Linked DNA regions of Homo sapiens: all the other regions are linked to region 1. Evidence: fine-mapped expression QTL. A gene starts in region 1. Each other region holds a variant in brackets. All regions are shown on one strand. Distances are between the middles of the regions. Region 1 holds the start of GNA12 (G protein subunit alpha 12). Region 2 overlaps AMZ1 (archaelysin family metallopeptidase 1). Region 3 overlaps GNA12 (G protein subunit alpha 12). Region 4 overlaps GNA12 (G protein subunit alpha 12).

Region 1 (5,146 bases):
AGGCCAGGATTCCAGCACAGAGACCCCAGGAAGGAGTCACTTCATCTCTAGGGCTGAGGCAGGAGTCCTTATGGGTAAGTGATACAAATGTACCCGATAGGTTTCTACGGGGCTTTGCTAAATTTAAAATCTCCCAGGCACCATAAAACCTAGTCTCCAGGCAGGTTTTCTGGCATGGCAAACTTCTCTCCGACTCTGCTTTGAGATGATTGTCCTCGCCTCTAACTTGGTTTCCCCAAAATGGGCTGGGGAAAAAGTGGTGAGGGGACAAGGAAAGGGTAGAGAGGTAGGGAGGGAGGGAGAAAGGAAGGGAGGAAGGAAGAAAAGAAAAAAGGAAGGAAGGTAGAAAGAAAGGAAGAAAAGGAAGGCGGGAAGGAAAGGAAGGAAAGGAAGGAAGGGAAGGGAGGAAGAAAAGAAAGGAAGGAAAGAAAAGAAGGAAAGGAAGGAAGGAAAAAGGGAGGGAGGACAAAGGACGCTATCTAGGTGTAAGCAAGGCTGCACTGTTCCCTCATCATCAGTTTCCTCCAGATCTTCCTTGAGGCCCTTTAACACAGGCTCACGGTACTGAGAGACTGGAACCCCGACTTTATCAACTCTATGGTTCTTTTATTTTTTTTCACTGCCACTCAGGCTGGAGTGCAGTGGCCCAAACATGGCTCACTGCAGCCTCAACCTCCCAGGCTCAACCAATTCTCCTACCTCAGCCGCTCAAGCAACTGGGACTACAGGTGCATTCCACCATGCCCAACTAATGTGTTCATTTTTGTGGCACTGAGGTCTTGCTGTGTTGCCCAGGTTGGTCTCAAACTTCTGGCCTCAAGTGATCCTCCTGCCTCAGCTTCCCAAAGTGCAGGGATTACAGGCACGAGCCATCACACCTGGCCGACTTCTACAGCTTCTTTCACAAATATGGCGAAGAGAAAAAAGGAAGCAAGAGACAGGAGAATCTGGAGATTCATTGCAATGCATGTCGAGTCACACAAAACAATTATGCCACAATGGAGGAATTCTGAACACTGGATATCTGGTGATAATGAGCTATTACTAATGTTTAGGTTTGCTAATGGTACTGCGGTTGTGTTTTTACATGGAGGCCTCATCTTTTAGCCACTCATATACATCCTAAAACGTTTCCTAATCCAACTACACAAAGTTGGATTTGCTTGGAGACCATGGGGAGGGCACAGGTGAATAGGATTGGCACAGAATTGATGACTGCTTTAGTTGGGCTGTAGGTACTTTACAGTCAATCTACTATTTTCTCTACTTTTGTATACATTTGAAGTTTTCGTATTAGAAAGTGTGGCTCACACCTGTAATCTCAGCACTTTGGGAGGCCCAGGTGGGAGGATGGCTTGAGACCAGCCTGGGCAAGAGAGTGAGAGCCTTTCTAAAAAAACAGAAAAGTAAAAAGAGACTCATGGCTGGTTCCCGTCCAGTCTCCACTGCTCTTCTTCTAAGCTCAGCCGGAGGGCACGGCCGGTTGGGCTCCTATCCCACAAATCTTCCAGTGGGAAATGGACAGATACCATTCTGCTAGGGCACATCCAGGAGGGGGCTAAGTGCCAAGCCCCCACTCCCCATCCCCAGAAGCTGGCCCGAGTTCCCACTCCCACGGTCCCCAGGCACCCTAGAGAGGGCAGAGGCAGACCGGGCGCCATGACTCATGCCTATAATCCCAGCACTTGAGGGAGACCAAGGCAGGAGGATCACTTGAGGCCAGGAGACTGAGACCAGCCTGGGCAACACAGCAAGACCCCATCTCTACAAAAAAAAACTTAAAAATTAGCTGGGCTGGTGGTGCGCGCCTGTAATCCCACTACTTCGGGAGGCTAAGGAGGGAGTAGGGCTTGAGCCTGGGAGGTCGAGGCTGCAGTGAGCTGTGAGGGCGCCACTGCACTCAAGCCTGGGAAACACAGCGAGACCCCATCTCAAAAAGGGCGAGACGGGGTGGGGCAGAGACGACGCCAGCAGGCCTCGGGGAATGGGTCGGGGGGGAGTGGGGTGCAGGCGGGGCTGGATCCAGCATCCTCGCCCCAGGGGTCCCCGCCCGCGGCGGCGGACCACGGAGGGGCCCGGGGCGGGGGTTAGCGCCCCGGCCCACCTGGGTGCAGGTGCTGGGCGGGGGGCGCGCGTCACCTTGAGGATGTTGTCGAAGATGGTGTCGCGGAACTCCAGCAGCGCCTTCTGGTCGAACTCGCGGCCGTGGATGATGCGCATCTGCTTGAGGAACGTGGACTTGCCGCTCTCGCCCGCGCCCAGCAGCAGGATCTTCACCAGGCGCCGGACCGCGCGCCGCTCGCGGGCCAGCAGCGCGTCGATGTCGCGGCTACGCCTCCGGGCCTCGCGCTCCGCGTCGCGCGCGCCGCTGCCCGCCCTGCGCTCGCGGGCCCCGCCGGCCTCGGCCGGCAGCAGGCAGCGGCTGAGGGTCCGCACCACCCCGGACATGGCCCCTCAGGCCGCGGCCGCGCCCCGCCGGCGCCCGGGGGCCATGGACGCTCCCGCCGGCGAGGGCGAGCCCGGGCCGAGGCACCGCCCCACGCCCCGCCGCTCGCCTCAGGCCGCGTCCGCCGCCGCCGCTGCAGTCGCTCCGAGGCCCGCACTCGTCGCCCGGCCGCCACTCGGGCCCGGCGGAGGGGCGGGCGGCGCCGCGTGAGGCCCGGCGGATTGGGCCGGCTGCCGTCCATCTGGCCGTGAGAGCCCTTCGATTGGCTCATCTCGCCAAGGGAGGCGGGCATCCCTTCCGGCCTCGGGGCGGGGTCGACGCCGAAAGAGGCGGGATCTTTGAGGTGAAGGCGCTTCTCATTGGACGCCCAGGCTGAGGTTCTTTCTTTCAGAATGAAAGGGAGGCGGGGTCGCCCGGGAGGCGGAGCGATCGTCCGCCATGGCCAATTATAATTGCTCTGAGTGGACATCAGACGTGCCCAACGGGCTTTGGATTGGGTGTTCGGGGGACGGGGCGTGACGAGAAGTGCCAGGTGTACAGAAAGATTCTCCCTTGGTTCCCAGATTGGGTCCGCCTGTGAGACCAGGACCTCGCGGAGTAGCCCAAAGGCTGGGAAATGCTGATAAGAGGTTCAGCTGCTCGTCGTATTCCCTCCGATGATCTTGTTTCTACACTATTTTCCTTCCAGAAACACTGGAGGGGGATGGGCCATAAATTTCAAACACATGCACCCTTTGAGAGTGGCATGGGCTTCTAGGAGGCTTTGCGAAAAGCTGACTAATCACTAAAATCACCAGAAGCTCCCCCAAAAGTCTTATGTCTCACAGTGATTGAGAGAGTGGGGTCTGGAGTTGCTGGGCCTGAGTTGGAATCTCCAGTCGACCAGTTACTAGGTGTACTAGTTGCATAACTTTTTTTAGCAGCTTTCCCCACCCCCCCCAACAAACCCTTTTGGATGTTCTTAGCTTCCGTTTCCTCATCTGTAAAACGGGGGTGTCATTGACGACATTGGTTATGGCTTGACATTGCTCAAATCGTCATGAAGATATAAACTGAGAACATGAACTTACCAAACACTTAGCACGTGAGCTAGCCCAAAATCAGCTCTTGATAGAGATCAGCTGATTACAGATTCTTGACTCTCCCAGATCTACTGAATCAGAACCTCCTAGAAGGAGCTCAGGTATCCCTTAAGATTAAAGGCGTGAGCCGCCGCGCCTGGCCCAGTGTGTAGTCTTTTATCTCTCGCCACCCCCCACCTTTTACCCTGAGTCCCCAAAGTCCAATCTCTGTGCGGTGTCTGTTAACTCTGCTGATTATTTCTTTTGCAGTGCCGAAGCTTTTTAGTTTAATTAAGTCCCATCTATTTATCTTTGTTTTTGTTGCATTTGCTTTTGGGTTCTTGGTCACAAAGTCTTTGCCTAAGCCAACGTCTAGAAGGATGTTTCCGATGTTATCTTCTAGAATGTTTATGGTTTCAGGTTGTAGATTTAAGTCTTTGATCTATCCTGAGTTGATTTTTGTATAACGTGAGAGACGAGGATCCAGTTTTATTCTTCTACATGTGGCTTGCCAATTATCTCAGCACCATTTGCTGAATAGGCTGTCCTTTCCCCACTTTGTTTTCATTTGCTTTGTTGAAGATCAGTTGGCTGTAAGTATTTGGCTTCATTTCTGGGTTCTCTATTATGTTCCATTGGTCTCTGTGCCTATTTTTATATTAGTACCATGCTGTTTTTGTGACGATAGCCTTATAGTATAGTTTGAAGTCAGGTAAAGTGATGCCTCCAGATTTGTTCTTTTTGCTTAGTCACAGATCTAAACTCCCCAGAAGGCTGGGCACGGTGACTCACAACTACAGTCCCAGCAGTTTGAGATGCTGAGGTGGGAGGATCACTTGAGCCCAGGAGGTCAAGGGTGCAGTGACCTATGATCGTGCCACTGTACTCCAGCCTGGACAACGGAGCAAGACCCTGTTTCAGAAACAAAACAAAACAAAAACCAACTCCCTGACAACCTTGAATGCACATAATATGTATTATTTGTCACTTGCTACAAATACTACAAATCATGCCATGAATTTGTATCACTTATGAGTCAAGATTTTGTAATCCTTGGAAAATGATTAGAAAGTCTTGCTTGTTTGTGGAAATGACCTCCCATAGGAGGCCAAATATGGCTGGGCACGGTGGCTCATGCCTGTAATCCCAGCACTTTGGGAGGCCAAGGCAGGCAGATTATCTAAGGTCAGGAGTTCAGGACCAGCCTGGCCAACATGGCGAAACCCTGTCGCTACTAAAAAATACAAAACTTGGTTGGGTGTGGTGGCGGGCGCCTGTAATCCCAGCTACTGGGGAGGCTGAGATAGGAGAATTGATTGAACCCGGGAGGCGGAGGTTGCAGTGAGCCGAGATCGCACCATTGCACTCCAGCCTGGGCAACAAGAGCAAAACTCTGCCTCAAAAAAACAAAAAAAAAAAAACAAAAACGGGAAGGCCAAATACTAGGTCTGGCATGGTAGCTCACACCATGTAATCCCAGCACTTTGTGAGGCTGTAATCCCAGCACTTTGTGAGGCTGAGGTGGGCAGATCACTTGAGGCCAGGAGTTTGAGACCAGCCTGGCCAACATGGTGAAACCTCCATCTCTATTAGAAATACCAAAATGAGCCAGGCATGGTGGTGAACGCCTGTAATTCCA
Region 2 (5,146 bases), 120 kb before region 1:
TTATTTTAAAAAGCAATTTCCAAGAAGCGTCCTGGGGTCACCACGCGTTCAGTCCAACTCTTCCCCGCTGCAGTGTTCCCGTGACGATGAGGCAAATCCAAATAGTCACCGGAGTCGAGCAAACACGGCGGCCCCTGCCTCCCCCGGCGGCTCCACAATGGCCCTCAGAGGGTCCGCGGCAGCCAGGCCCGTCCAACCTCCTGCCCTCTCTGAGAGGGGCCCGAGCTCTCGCAAGATTAACCAGAGACGACACCTACCAGATTCCACCACTGAGGCCTCCCTCGATGCCTGCTCCCTGGGCTTTTTAATGAACGCACTTCTGTCACATGGAAACTGAGCCCGGCATGGAGTCACGTGGCTCCACCCTGGGGCTCCTCTGATGCCGAGAGCTCTGGCTCTCCTGACTGTGGGCCCAGTGTCCATTTTCTCTCTCAGGCAGGGTGCTCTGCCCGCCACAGTGTGCCTGGTTTTCTGGATACAGCATGACTGAACCGCCCCTTCTCAGCAAAGGCCAACACGTCTTTCTCGAGTCCAAGACCATCTCCCGTTCAAGGGCCCTCACCGCGCTTTGTGAGTCTGTCTCGTGGGCCTCCTTCAGTGGTCTGTGACCAGCGGGAATGAATGGGGACGTGTTTTGTTCAGCCCTGACTCTTGGACGCTGGTGGCAGCCGCGGGCGCCCACTCACCTGGCACGTGGACGAAGGTGATGAGCGCGGCTGACGGCTCCCGGGGGCAGTGTGGGGTCCAGTCTGAAGCCGACGCCCCTCTCGGTCAGGCTTTCAGCAGCAGAAGGCAGTGGACTCTTCACCATTTCTTCCAACACTTTCTCACGTAGGAGCTCCACTGTCCCTTCTAACAGGACAGGGCTTGTGCAGCCGGGCTTGGTCTTGTGGTCAGGGAGAAGCGGGCAGGCCAGGGCCGAGCTGCGTCCGGCTCTCAGGGACTTCCTCTCCCTGTGCTCTGCCCACCTGGGGTAGGCCTCTGGGAACAGGGGAGTCACAGAAACCACGGGAAACGGAGTGGGTTGGAAGAGGCAGAGAACACGCTTTTCTCAGGGTCGCTTAACACAGGCAGGGGTACAGGAGAGCTCCGGCCATTTATTCCAAATGTATGAGCAGGAAGGAAAGAGGGAGGGAAGCTGCAAGAACAGGCGACTTTTTTTTTTTTTTTTCCCCCCCATCTGAAGTGAGATCAAACTTCTACCACATTCTACCTGTGCCCTTCTGGGTGGGTGGTGGCCGTCCTCTTGGGCGCCCCCTTGTGAGGGCTCGAGGCCTTTACTGGATGGGCAGGATGCGGGCAGCAGCTTTGTCGGCTGCCAACCCAACTCCTCCGACAGAACGGCAGGTGGCCCCTGTCGGAAGGGGGGTGTCTCTTTATTCCTGCCATCCTCCGGCCGCCTCTCCCGCCTGCACCACTTGGAGGCAGTTGTTTCACGTGGGGCTCTTGATGGCATAACCTGATGTCTGTCACGGACCCCCAAGCAGGAGCAATGCCTAAAGAGGGCAAAGGCCCGCGCGCCTGGCAGAGCTCCCTCCTCTGCTCCAACAGCAGAGCCCAGAGCATCCCTTGGCCCGACGCACAAGTCCCACAATAGCCTCTCCCAACGGGAACGACTTAGCCCTAATTACATGAGCTTTGATCACCGCTCGATTGTATGGCACAGTTATTTTTAAAAATCCAGTCCAAGTGGAAATACACCTGGAACATTTTATACTGCAATGACTGATGGACGACTTTGATATACAAAATAAATTGTTACTCAGCTTTTCTATAATGCTTACATCTTACATTTTCATTCTCAAAATTAATAAATGCTATCAACCCCAATTTTTTTTTTTTTTGAGATGGAGTTTCGCTCTTGTTGCCCAGCCTGGAGTGCAATGGTGTGATCTTGGCTCACTGCAACCTCTGCCTTCCAGTTTCAAGCGATTCTCCTGCCTCAGCCTCCCACGTAGATGGGATTACAGGTGCCTGCCACACCATGCCCGGCTAATTTTTGTATTTTTAGTAGAAATGGGGTTTCATCACCTTGGCCAGGCTGGTCTCAAACTCCTGACCTCGTGATCCACCCGCCTTGGCCTCCCAAAGTGCCAGGATTACAGGCGTCAGCCACCGTGCCCAGCCTCAACTCCAAATTTTAAAAAGGGCTTAAACGAAGAGGATGAAATTCTGGAAGGCTAAATGAAAAGAGAATGTGTCTGTTGAATTCGATAAGCAATTCCTTGCATTTGAGAAGGCAAGGAGCCGACGGGAACCTACCGACAGGGCTGCCACGCACTGCTGCAGAGCTTTCCGTGCAAAGCGCGGCTCCCCTCTGAGACTCGGCTCCTCTGCTGACATGGACCGGTTCATCTACCCACGCGGACGCCCATCCACAAACACTTAGTCACTGCTGGAGGCTTTTAAAACACCTGTCAAATGAAGAGTCACTTCACAAATGTTCACTCCCCGTTTCCATGTCTCCCCACGTC[A/G]GGGTGAACACTTTTTATGCGCTGTGACAAAAAGAGAAAGACTAGTGTGTGTTTTGGGGGCTGGAGGGGATCATTATTTTTTTGAATTTTTATTTATTGAGACAGAGTCTGTGTTGCCCAGGCTGGAGTCCAGTGGTGCGATCTTGGCTCACTGCAACCTCCGCCTTCTGGGTTCAAACGATTCTCCTGTCTCAGCCTCCCAAGTAGCTGGGACTACAGGCGCCTGCCACCAAGCCTGGCTAATTTTTGTATTTTTTAGTAGAGACGGGGTTTTACCGTGCTGGCCAGGCTGGTCTTGAACTCCTGACCTCAAGTGAAACACCGAAGTCTCCCAAAATGCTGGGATTATAGGTGTGAGCCACTGCGCCCAGCCTTTAAAAAAAAAAAATTATTTTAGATACAGGGGTCTTGCTATGTTGCCCAGGCTTATCTCAAATGCCTGGGCTCAAGCGACTCTCCTGCCTCAGCCTCCTAAGTAGCTGGACTACAGGTGTGTATCTCTACACTGAGCTAACTAAAAACTTGTTTTTGGTAGAGACAGGGTTTCAGCCACGTTGCCCAGGCTGGTTTTGAACTCCTGGGCTCAGGCAATCCTACTGCCTCGGGCTCACGAAGTGCCTGGATTACAGGTGTGAGTCACCACGCCCAGCCCGTTATTTCTGTTTATACGAATGTCACAGCATGTTTCCTGTGTGACCCTGCGGGCTGTCATCGCTGGCTGCCTGCCTTACGCCCACAGGTCTGGTGGTGGCGACCAGCAGCTGCAAAACGACCGACTCTATTGAAGACACACTGGGTGGCGCGGGAGGTTCCTGCCAATGCCGGGAGGAAGAGCAACCCAGGACGCCTGTGCCTGGGAGGGATGGAAAGGCCAGGGGAGGGTGGAGCTCAGGAGTGGAAGCACAGGGACTAAGGCCTGAGCCGGGCCCTGTGCTGAGCGCTCACCTCACTCTCCTGCCGCGCACCGCAGATGTGTGGAAGATGTGAGGAGGCCTCTGCTTCGGGAAAGGTGCTTGCCCCACGGTGGAACGCACTCTGGAAGCCCGTGGATGCGACGCATGCTGCAGAATCCACTGCCACACACATTCTTCTGTTTGAAAGCAGTAGGTGGGCTGGGCGCAGTGGGTCACTGTAATCCCAGCACTTTGGGAGGCTGAGGTGGGTGGATCACGAGGTCAGGAGATCGAGACCATCCTCGCTAACACGGTGAAGCCCTGTCTCTACTAAAAATACAAAAAATTAGCCAGGTGTGGTGTCAGATGCCTGTAGTCCCAGCTATTTGGGAGGCTGAGGCAGGAGAATGGTGTGAACCTGGGAGGTGGAGGTTGCAGTGAGCCGAGATCGCGACACTGCACTCCAACCTGGGCAACAGAGCGAGACTACGTCTCAAAAAAAAAAAAAAAGATAGCGGCGGGTGGGTGCCACACTCAGGGGCCCCCCACTTCTCAGCAGTGGCGGGGGAGGCAGGGACATAACACGCCAGGAAAACAGGTGTAATTTAAGGCACATTTTAATAGATTTATAAAAATCATATATACAAAACATGTTAAACTAACCACCGTGGCTATAACATATATTTTTACACTTTATCATATCTTAACCTCGTACACTGTATTCGTAAACCAAGTCCGGTCACGGCATGATGGCCCGGCGCAGGTGGTGCTGGCGCTGTAGCGACCGTCTTGGAGGGGCTGCACAGAGCACTCGGTTCCTTTCTGTATTTAAGGTCCTGAAAGGCACAGGCGCTAAAGCCAGAAGGCCGTCCAACTGGTCCCTTCGGCAGTGTGTCCTCCTGCTGCGTGGGCTGGGGCCTGAGCACAGGAAAGGGAGTTCAGGACACGGTGGCCATGAGTAGGTGCCAAGCTTACCACACTGAATTTCCTGGCGACGCTTGTGCCCATCGATGTGAGCTGGTTCAAATGGAGTTAAGAAAAAGGGCATTTCGAATTTTTTTTTTTTTTTTGAGACAGACTCTCGCTCTCTCGCCTGGGCTGGAGTGCAGTGGCGCGATCTCGGCTCACTGCAAGCTCTGCCTCCCGGGTTCATGCCATTCTCCTGCCTCAGCCTCCCAAGTAGCCGGGACTACAGGCGCCCGCCACCATGCCCGGCTAATTTTTTATATTTCAGCAGAGACGGGGTTTCACCGTGTTAGCCAGGATGGTGTCGATCTCCTGACCTCGTGATCCATCCGCCTCAGCCTCCCCAAGTGCTGGGATTACAGGCGTGAGCCACCGTGCCCAGCCAGGACATTTTGAATGTTTTAAACCAATTTGCCTGACAGGTCAAAAGGTAATTTTTTGAGATTCGAGACTGACAGATGCAACAGAGATTTTAAATTTTGCATAGGCTTGTTAAGAACCCAGACTGGGTGCAGCGACTCATGCCTGTAATCCCAGCACTTCAGGAAGGCTGAGGTGGGAGGATCACTTGAGGCCAAGAGTTCAACACCAGCCTGGGCAACACAGTGAGACTCCATCTCTATACAAAATTTAAAAATTAGCCAGGTGCGGGTGGTGGCCACATGCCTGTGGTCCCAGCTACTTGGAAGGCCAAGGTGGGAGGACTGCTTGAGCCCAGGAGTTTTGAGGCTGCGATGAGCTATGATCACACCACTGCACTCCAGCCTGGGCCACAGAGCAAGACCCTATATTTAAAATAAAATAAAGTAAAAT
Region 3 (5,146 bases), 51 kb before region 1:
AGACAAGAAGATAATATTTATATTAGTTATACCGATGACCAAAGTCTTTCTGTTGAGCATCCTGCTCTGTCTTACTTAACTGTGTTTTGGAAGATAAGGTCTAACATGGCGAGATCATCTTCCTTTTAACTGAGCCACAGAAGTGATGCTCATGGGGTGTCTGCTGTCTGTGACCAGCAGTGGACAGCAATGGCCAGGCATGGCAAGGGGCCAGTGGGGAAGGCGGCCAGGCTGCCTCCCCTATGGAAAGGGAAGATTTCCATCCCCCACCCCGGCCCACCCTGCTCCTCTCAGAGGAGAAAGGGTCGTCACAAGGTAATCACCAGACACAGCCTTTTTTCCTCCTCTTTTTGTTTCTATCTCTGACTGGAATGGCAGGAAAAAGCAAGACGGCAGAGGGAACAGGGAGGCGCCTAGTACCTGGCTGACAGCAATTCTCAAAGCAGCTGCAGCTCTTCACAGGGACTGTCAAATGCTGTCAGCTGGGGAAGAAAGACAAGCAAAAAACAAGGTGATGAAGCATTGCCCTAGAAAAGCTTTGACACTCAGGAAAAGATTGGAAGAGAAACAAGGGTCTACTGCAGGGGTGGGGGAGGGAGCCCTGGTAACGGTGACTTCAGATGGGTATGGTCTTTCAGTTTTGCTGTAATTGTGTATTTTGACAACAACGACTATTAGGGTCCTACTATCTAGCTATTTTAATAAAATGCTCCATCATTTTTTTTGAAGAATAAAAAGAAGGGCAAATGTATAAAGTATAGGAATAACAGTCATGCACCCACCACCCAATAAACAAGAATTTCACATCATCATCTCTGCATCTGATTATTACAGACTTTACAAATGCATCACTGACTACAACAGTATATTTTCTGTATCTTCACAAAGTCTCATGGTCTGAAGCATAAGATCGAACCAAAGGGACGACTACTGACCCACCTGTGGCCACCTTACCCTAATCACCCGCCAAGTGCACGTCTAGATTAAAAGCTCACTCGCTGGAGACAGGCTCATGTTTGGTCTTCTTCACTGCTATATCCCCAGCATGTAGCACCGGGTCTCACACAGTAGGTGATCCATGAATGCAGAATGAATGAATGAATGAGTGAAGAAGGGGAGAAACAAGCAGACTGGGCTTTGAGGCCCAAATTTCTCACAGTGATTACCAAGATGATGTGGCCTCAGGCACAGCATAACTGGTACGGGCTTACTTCCATGTCGTGACAATACAAGGGCTTGACTTCCTAAATTGGGAGGTCCCTTCCAGCACTGACACCCTGCACTGACGGAACAGGGCAAAGACAGAAGCCTGTCAAAGCTGCTGCACCATGCCGAATCCCAGACAGAAGCCTCACTCAGTACGATCAGCCCCAGACACTTCTGCTTCCTTCTTTGGAAAATCCTCAATTTCCATCCAAGTTCTAAATGAATGAGAATCTTCTTTCCCAGACTCTGTGAGTGTATGGGGAAAAGGTGTAAACCTCAATTTCACATTGAGATACTGACATGTATTTCCCAATTGTTTCTTCCAGCCCTGCTCTTTAGGAGATTAAAATTTCCTTTCTACCGCAACCACATCTTCCACTCTCTTTTGATTCTTTTACCTTAACTGTTAAAGTTAACTTGAGAAGGAATGTGCAGATGGAAAGGGGCTAGTAAAAACGTCATCCTTAAGATGCCCTGGAGGACATTAACATTTACAGGCAAAAGCCTGAGGAGAAACAGGCTATTTGCAGGGTCTCAATGTATCTCCCTAAGATATGTGTTAACAACACAGAGAAAATACTGACTTCCCAGTGGAGAAAGGTGGCCAACAGTGCCTCAACCAAGCAACCCAGGCTTGCATCACCAGCCACTGGACAATATCACGCACTTCCTGATCAGATGATCTGAGCAGGGCTCAACGGCACGCCTGCGGTTTCTGTGCCAAAAAAATGCATCCCCTCATCCTGATGACGAGAAAATACCAGACAAACCCAAACAGGAAGATTCTACACAATACCTGGCCAGTGCTCTGGACATGTCAAGGTCATGAAAGGCAAGGAAAGATCAAGGAGCTATCATGGACTGCAAGAGACCAAGGGGACACAATGACTAAACACAATGGGGGATTCCAGGCCAGGATCCAGCAGACAGGAGCGCGAGAGGAAGCAGCGGACAGGACGCGAGAGGAAGCAGCGGACAGGACGCGAGAGGAAGCAGCGGACAGGAGCGCAAGAGGAAAGGTGGGTCACATTCAGACAAGGTCTACAGTTAATTGATGCTTTCATACCGATGTCAACTTCTTAGTTTTAATAGTTGTATAGTGGTTAAGATGTTAACATTAGGGGGACTTGGGAGAAGAATATAAGGAAATTGAACTGAGGGGACTATTAGCAGACTATATAGCACCTCTCAGATGATTGAGAAAAATAAAAATTACTCTGCAGGAAAAGGATGGGTAAAAGATATGAATAGGGTGGGGCATGGTGGCTCACACCTGAAATCCCAGCACTTTGGGAGGCCGAGGCGGGTGGATCACCTGAGGCCAGGAGTTCGAGACCAGCCTGGCCAACATGGTAAAACTCCATCTCCACTAAAAAATATAAAAATTAGCTGGTGTGGTGGTGGGTGCCTACAGTCTCTGCTACTCGGGAGGCTGAGGTGGGAGAATCACTTGAATCCAGAGGTGGAGGTTGCAGTGAGCTGAGATGGCGCCACTGCACTCCAG[G/C]CTGGGCAACAGCGCGAGACTCCATCTCAAAAAAAAAAAAAAAAAGGAAAAAAAAAGACGTTTCCAATAGCAAAATATGAAAAACAGTTCAAAAGTACCTCAATGAAAGAAGGAATGGATCCTAGTATCTTTCCACAGTGGAGCATCAGACAGCAGTGAAAAGGGAAGAACCGCTGCTATGTGCCTCGCCTGATGAAATTCCAACATGTGGAGTGAAAAAGGCAAGTCACAGAAGCATATATACTATACACTAAGAAATGACTTATATGAAGGTTAAGAATCAGTAAAACTCAAGACTGTCGTGTTTACAAATAATAAATGGGTATTATGGCAAAATCATAAGAACGGCAAAGGATTCATGACTTCAACTTGACTCTGGGTGCTAAGGGGGCAAACGGCTGTGAGAGTGAGAGGCATTTCTGGATACCCTGGGTGTGTATTAATATCAGCTGTGCACATTTATGCTGGTTATCAGAAAAATTGTACATTTTACTTTATATACGGTTAATTTTGAAAGGTAGAAAAAAACAAAAAGCAAACAGGCAAAACCCCCCAGATTTTCTGGTTATAGATTCAGACCCCAAATGAATCTAAATAACTGGGCTTTGTGAAGTTTTTAGACCTTAAAACGAAAGGAACAAATCTGAAGGGAACAACTGGGAGGAGTTGGATTTGCTTCCGAGGCGCTGATCTGAAGGCGTTCGTGAGTTGCCCATACCCACAGGTCCAAAGTGGGAAGCTGTTGTGGGGGGTGTTATTTCCTACTATGAACAAGATCTCTAAAAAAAACTAAATTTCTCGGGTTGTGCCAATGCTGATGATTCTAAGAACCCTCCGTATTCCCAGAAGAAAGCTATTGATCTTACCTGAGTGGCTCTTGCTCCTTCCCCTCTTGAGCCTTTTATATAGCATCTGCCTCCATCCCGTGTTTTGGTTGTTGATCATTACAACTTACGGTGATTTAGAGCTTGCTTGGACTGTTACACAGTTTTTAAGGAAATTCAACTAACGGTCCAAAATAGTCATGTAAAAAACACACTATCAGGTGCCCAGCAAGAAGGCCTACTCACTCACCAGCTGAAACTCGCTTCTCCGGCTGAAAGCCTCCCTGATGCCAGAATCCCTCCAGAGTGCGCTCAGGGCCGGGACGTACAGCTGGAAGGTGGCCGGCTCCACAGGCAGCCCCGCCTTGTTCTCGAAGGCCATCAGGAACATCCCATGCTTCTCATTTTCAGAATACTGCCAAGGAATGCCAAGCTTATCTCGTGCATCAACAAGAACCCTTGAGCCCTAGAAAATAAAAGAAAGAAGAGAGGATTTAATTGCATTCCAAAGACTAAACCACGCTAGAGAAGCTCAAAATGGGCATCCATTGTCATAACGCAGAAAACTCACAAGCTCTGAGCTGTGCAGCCTGAGTCTGTCTCTTGGTTTGTTTGTTGTGATGTGGAAAGTCTTAACTCTCAGCAGTATAACCTCACCAAGACAGACGCACATGGCCGAGAGCAGTGGCTCACACTGTGAGCCTCCCCTTTGGGAGGCCAAAGAGGGAGGACTGCTGGAACACAGGAGTCTGAGACCGGCCTGGGCAACAGAGCAAGACCCTGCTTCTACAAAAAATTAAATCAAATTAAAAACAGCTGGGCTTGGTGGTGGCACACCTGTAGTCTCAGCTGAGCGGGGAGGATTGCTTGAGCCCAGGAGGTCAAGGCTACGGTTATCTATGATTGCTGCACTATATTCTAGGCTGGGCAACAGAGCAAGACCCTGTTTCAAAAAAAAAAAAAGAAAAGAAAAAAGAAAAAAAAGAAAACAGATGTACATAAGCACCACAGAAAGAAGTCTGCTTTCTGCTATCATTCATTTGCAAAGCTACTGGAAAAAAGACAACTGGGCGGGGAGGAGGTGGCAACAATTTCAGAAAATTTCACTGGAAAATGAAGTGTATCAGTAAAAAAACAACTTTTTTTTTTTTTTTTTTCTTAGATGGAGTTTCACTCTTTTTGCCCTGGCCTGGAGTGCAATGGAGTGATCTCGGCTCACTGCAACCTCCGCCTCCCAGGTTCAAGCAATTCTCCTGCCTCAGCCTCCTAAGTAGCTAGGATTACAGGTACCTGCCACCAGGCCCGGCTAATTTTTTATTTTTAGCTGAGATTACAGACCACCACGGACTGCTAATTTTTGTATTTTTAGTAGAGAGGGGGGTTCCACCATGTTGTCCAGCCTGGTCTCGAACTCCTGACCTCAGCTGATCCGCCCGCCTCAGCCTCCCCGCCAAAAAAACAATGTTTTAACAACAACTATAGTAGCCTCCACCCCTTATCCGTGGCATAAGTTCCAAGACCCTCAGTGGATGTCTGAACGGTACCAAGCCCTACCTGTATTGTTTTTAAAGTTTAATTTAATTTATGAATTAGGCACAGTAAGAGATTAATA
Region 4 (5,146 bases), 72 kb before region 1:
GGTCAGGAGATTGAGACCATCCTGGCCAACACGGTGAAACCCCGTCTCTATTAAAAAAAATACAAAAAATTAGCCGGGCGTGGTGGCAGGCGCCTATAGTCCCAGCTACTCAGGAGGCTGAGGCAGGACAATGGCACGAACCCGGGAGGTGGAGCTTGCAGTGAGCCGAGATCGCACCACCGCACTCCAGCCTGGGTGAGAGAGTGAGACTCTGTCTCAGAAAAAACAAAAACAAACAAACAAAAAAAACACAGCTCTGGCCAAATTCTCTCCCAAAAAGGTTGTACCAATTTATATCCTAATGAACAAGGGTTTAAGATACCCACTTCTTTATACCCTTAACACACTGGATATTATCAATTGAATTTTTTTCTGAATTTGATGGGTGAAAAGTGATATGTCATTACATTTTAAGTCTAAGTGTTTTTGTTTTTTTAAATCATGGGGGGGCAAGTACTTTTTCAAAATTGCTTTTATAAAATTAAAGGTTTATAATAGGAAGTTACAATAAAATAGATCATAGTGACATGCAGAGCTAAGATTCAATTCAAGCTATAGACTGGCCTGGTACTGTGAGGAAAATAAAATATATCCTCAACATTATTCAACTGCATAGATAGCAACAAATAAACAAACCTACAATGTATGACTTTACTGAGGTTCACTGCCATAATATACTATAAACAGGATAACCATATGCCCCACTTGCCCTGGAGAGTCCCAATTTGAGTCAATCATCTTGGCAAAATTGTTTAATAGGGTCTTGTTTTATTTATAAACATGTCCCGTTTGGAAATTAAATTAAATGATCACACAATTTTAAATTTAGGCTCAAATTGAGGCTCAATAGCCTCTAGAACCATATCAAGCTCAAAGAGTTCAATTCTGACATAGTTCAGCTAGGCTTGTGACAGGGCAATGCTTGTCCATTGGAGTTGGCATTAGATTAAGTTAGAGTTAGCTAGGCGTGGTGGTGCACACCTGTAGTCTCAGCTACCCAGGAGGCTGAAGTGGGGGAAATCTCTTGAGCCCAGGAGTTTGAGGATGCAGTGAGCTACGATAAGCGTGCCTGTGAAAAGCCACTGAGCTCCAGCCTGGGCCACATAGTGAGACTCCATCTCAACAACAATAACAACAACAAAACAAAACAAAACAACACACAGAAAGAAAGAAAGAAAAAGAACAAACAAAAACAAAGCAACATGGATGCTTCACTGGGCAGCAGAGCTAATGGGATCCTGTGCTTGTTGCTTTGTGTTTCCACGTAGGACGATTACAAATCAGAGTTACTGAAACCGAATGCCCCTTCACTGTATACCATAGGAATACTGGCACTGCCTAAGTGCAAGGCCATCGTGCAAGATTATGGCAATGTTTTAAGATCATCTAAACGTGGACCTGGGGGTACTGCAAGCGCCAGGCTCTGATGACTCCTTGCAGAGCAAATGGACAGGGAACAGACTTAGTAAACCAAATTATTAAAATCAAAGAAAAGGCCAGGCGCCGTGGCTCACACCTGTAATCCCAGCACTTTGGGAGGCTGAGGTGGGTGGATCACTTGAAGTTAGGAGTTCAAGACCAGCCTGACCAACATGGCGAAACCTCGTCTCTACTAAAAATACAAAAATTAGCCAGGTGAGGTGGCAGGCACCTATAATCCCAGCTACTCGGGAGGCCGGGGCAGGAGAATCGCTTGAACCTGGGAGGTGGAGGTTGCCGTGAGCTGACATGTCGCCACTGTACTTCAGCCTGGGCGACAGAGCAAGACTCCCTGCCACTCAAAAAAAACCAAAAAACCAAAAAAACGAAACCGCACATAGTGAACTTGCCCAGTCTGATGACTTCTGACATATGCATACAGCTGTGGGACCATCATAACAGCCAAGATCATGAGCAAACACCCAAACAACTCCCACTGTGGCCT[T/C]ATCAGCCCTTCCCCTCCCCTGCACTCCCTTCCTGCCCAGGCAACCCGTGGTCGGCATCTATCCCTCCATGTTGGTCTGCATATTCTAGATTCTCATGTAAGTCAGATCTTAGAGGACACTCCCTTCTTTGTGTGGCCTCCTGCACTTGGCACAATTCTTTCCAGATTCGCCCATATGCTGCAGGTTACCAGGTGCTCCCTTTCCTGGCTGAGCAGTATCCCCACAGAAGGGTGCACCCCAGTCTGTTCATCCATCTGCTTGTTGATGGCCACGTTCCCAATGTTCAGCTGCCATAAACATGTGTGTGCAAGTCTTTGTGTGGACAAATATTTTCACTTCTCTTTGGTAAATATCTACATGTGGAAGGGCTAGCTCATGTGATAATTGTATGTTTAACTTTTAAGAAAGTGCCCCGCTTTTCCAAAGCAGGAGTACCATTTCACATTTCTACCAGGGGTGTGTGAGAGCCTGAGTTCCCACCCCCGCCCTCACTGTGCCTTGGGTGGTCGCCTTCCAAAGGGCAGCCTCCTAGGAGAGCATGTGGTGTCTCACCACGGTGTTCAACTGCATGTGTGTCATGACTGATGACGTCGACTGAGCATCTTTTCATGTGTTATTTGCTTCAGGAATCTCTTCTTTGTTCAAATCTTTTGTCCTTTTAAAAAAATTGTTTTCTTGAGTTTTGAGAGTTCTTTACATATTCCGGATAATCTGACAAAGGACTCATATCGAGAATTCCCAAGAAAATGACCAACAACCCAACAGGGCAAAAGATTTGCACAAACCTGTTATAGAAGAGGATATCCCACTGGCCAACAGATGTACAAAAGGTGCCAAACATGCTGGGTGCAGTGGCTCACGCCTGTAATCCCAGCACTTGGGGAGGCAGAGGCAGGCGGATCACGAGGTCAGGAGCTCGAGACCATCCTGGCTAAAATGGTGAAACCCGTCTCTACTAAAAATGCAAAAAATTAGCCGGGCGTGGTGGTGGGCACCTGTAGTCCCAGCTACTTGGGAGGCTGAGGCAGGAGAATGGCGTGAACCCAGGAGGCGGAGCTTGCAGTGAGCCAAGATCGCACCACTGCACTCCAGCCTGGGCAACAGAGTGAGACTCCATCTCAAAAAAAAAAAAAGAAAAAGGTGCCAAACTTATTTAGTCAGGAAAGTTCTTACTTAGAAATGCAAAGTAAAACATCAATTGATACCCACCAGGAGGCTTAAAATCAAGAGGACAATGCCAAGTGTTGGTTAGAACGTGGACTAACTGTCCCACACTGCTGGAGAGACTATAAACCAGTACGGCCAGTTTGGAGAAATAGTTGGCAAACCCAGCAATCCCACTCCTAGGTATATTTCCAAGAGAAATCAGTGCATATATCCATTAAGAGACCTGTCCAAGAATGTTCAAAGCAGCTTTACTCACAGTAGCCAAAAACGAGAAACAAACACCATGTCTGTGAACAGGAGAAGAAATAAATTATGGTGTATTCATTTAATGGAAGGCTATAAAGAAAAAAGAAGAAAATACCAATCCACGTAGCAACACAGATGAATCTCTCAGTCATTAAGCAAAGAAGCCAGCTAAACGATTCCATTTAAACAAACTTCAAAAACAGGCAAAACACTAATCTACAGTGATGGAAGTGAAACTAGCGTGGTCACCAGGAGGAGTGGTATCAATGGGGAAGCAGCGGGAGGGACTTTCTTGGATGCTGAAATGTTCTTTCACGTGGGTGGTGGCTGTGTGAGTAGATACATACGTAAATCTCATTGTGTTGTATACACCTAAGATTTGTGCATTTTGCACACAGAAATTATACTTCAATTAAAACAAATAAACAAGGCTGGGGGCGGTGGCTCACGCCTGTAATCCCAGCACTTTGGGAGGCCGACATGGGTGATCACCTGAGGTTGGGAGTTTGAGACCAGCCTGGCCAACATGGCAAAACCCCTTCTCTACTAAAATACAAAAATTAGCCAGGCGTGGTGGTGGGCATCTGTAATCCCAGCTACTCGGGAGGCTGAGGCAGGAGAATTGCTTGAACCCGGGAGGCAGAGGCTGCAGTGAGCCAAAATCACACCACTGCACTCCAGCCAGGGCGACAGAGTGAGACTCAGTCTCAAAAATAAACAAACAAACAAAACCAGAATGAGATACCTCTACACGGCCACCAGAATGGCTATTTGAAAAAGAGGACAAGCACTGGTGATGAGGTGGAGTAATGGGAACTTGGCCTCTGCTGGTAGAGCACAAATACAAACACTGTGAAAAATCCATGAACACTGAACCCAGGCACACCTGGATGCCCCAGCAAGTCCACCCCTGGACAGCCCTGAGGGAAATGCCTACATCTCTTCACCAAAAGACAGGTTCTTGAATACCTACAGTAACATTTTTGTAATGACGCTGAGCTGGCGTCTACCCGGACGCCCATCACCAGGAGGGCAGGGAACTAAATTGCGGGACATTCACAAAATGGAATTACCATGCAGCAACAAGGAAGAACGTGCCGCAGAATTGGAAGAACCGCACAAAACGAAATGGCGACGAGAAGGAGCCAGTAACACAGGAGTAAATACCGTGTGAGGCCACAGATGAAGCAGCAACGCAGAAATACCCATTCTACAGAACAGCTGGTGTTCACGGTCAGAACTGGTTACTTCTGGAGAGCAGAAGGTGGTGTGAAGATGAAAGGGGTTCTGGGGCACAGGTCATTGTTTCCTGAGCTGGCGGCAGGTCACACAATCTGCTCAGTTTGTGAAAACTGAGTTAATATAGATGCACTTTTATTTCTATACATGTATATGCATATATACACACATGCATGCATATATATGTGTGTATATATATGTAATTCTCCAATAAAAACATTTTTTAAATGAAATAGGGAAAGGTAATAGGTAGTGGTGGGTGCGGTTTTGACTTTAATCAAGATTGTCAGGTAAGATTTCATGAAGATAACATCTGAGTCAAAACCTTGATGAGATAAAGGAGGAAGTGCATTCCAGGCAGAAGGAACAGCAAGCACAAGGGCCCTGATGGCGCTGGGAGGCCCTGAGTGTGCAGGGAGCAGCAGGAAGGCCAGTGCGCCTGCAGCAGTGACAGAGAGGAGGGGAGCAGGAGATGGGCTTGCCGAGGCAAAGGGGGGGTCCAGGTTGCTAATGTGTCGAATGCTTTAATGATATAAGGGTCAAAAAAAGTACAAGGTTTGAGAACCTAC

The links. PIP is the estimated chance that this variant, and not a neighbour inherited with it, causes the effect. A credible set is the group of variants that fine-mapping cannot tell apart.
Region 2: its variant is the best candidate, but not a certain one, in a credible set for the expression of GNA12 in B cells (Fairfax 2012, PIP 0.59).
Region 3: its variant is the best candidate, but not a certain one, in a credible set for the expression of GNA12 in whole blood (TOPMed, PIP 0.87).
Region 4: its variant is the best candidate, but not a certain one, in a credible set for the expression of GNA12 in whole blood (TOPMed, PIP 0.62).

What each region holds. Positions count from the first base shown.
Region 1 is chr7:2,841,714-2,846,859 of GRCh38, forward strand. It overlaps GNA12 (G protein subunit alpha 12), which reads right to left and starts at 2,595. Exons shown (of 4, transcript NM_007353.3): 1 at 2,140-2,595. The coding sequence starts at 2,448. RefSeq lists enhancers at 1,902-2,719, 2,682-2,976, 2,959-3,088 and silencers at 2,069-2,118, 2,459-2,788.
Region 2 is chr7:2,717,854-2,722,999 of GRCh38, forward strand. It overlaps AMZ1 (archaelysin family metallopeptidase 1), which reads left to right. Exons shown (of 7, transcript NM_001384743.1): 7 at 1-1,830. Among named protein-coding and RNA genes, the nearest start is that of AMZ1, 32 kb to the left of the region's middle. The variant A/G (reference allele first, on the strand shown) is at 2,475.
Region 3 is chr7:2,791,144-2,796,289 of GRCh38, forward strand. It overlaps GNA12 (G protein subunit alpha 12), which reads right to left. Exons shown (of 4, transcript NM_007353.3): 2 at 3,785-4,000. Among named protein-coding and RNA genes, the nearest start is that of GNA12, 51 kb to the right of the region's middle. The variant G/C (reference allele first, on the strand shown) is at 2,711.
Region 4 is chr7:2,769,515-2,774,660 of GRCh38, forward strand. All of the region lies in intron 2 of GNA12 (G protein subunit alpha 12), which reads right to left. Among named protein-coding and RNA genes, the nearest start is that of GNA12, 72 kb to the right of the region's middle. RefSeq lists a silencer at 1,932-2,076 and an enhancer at 3,413-3,462. The variant T/C (reference allele first, on the strand shown) is at 1,925.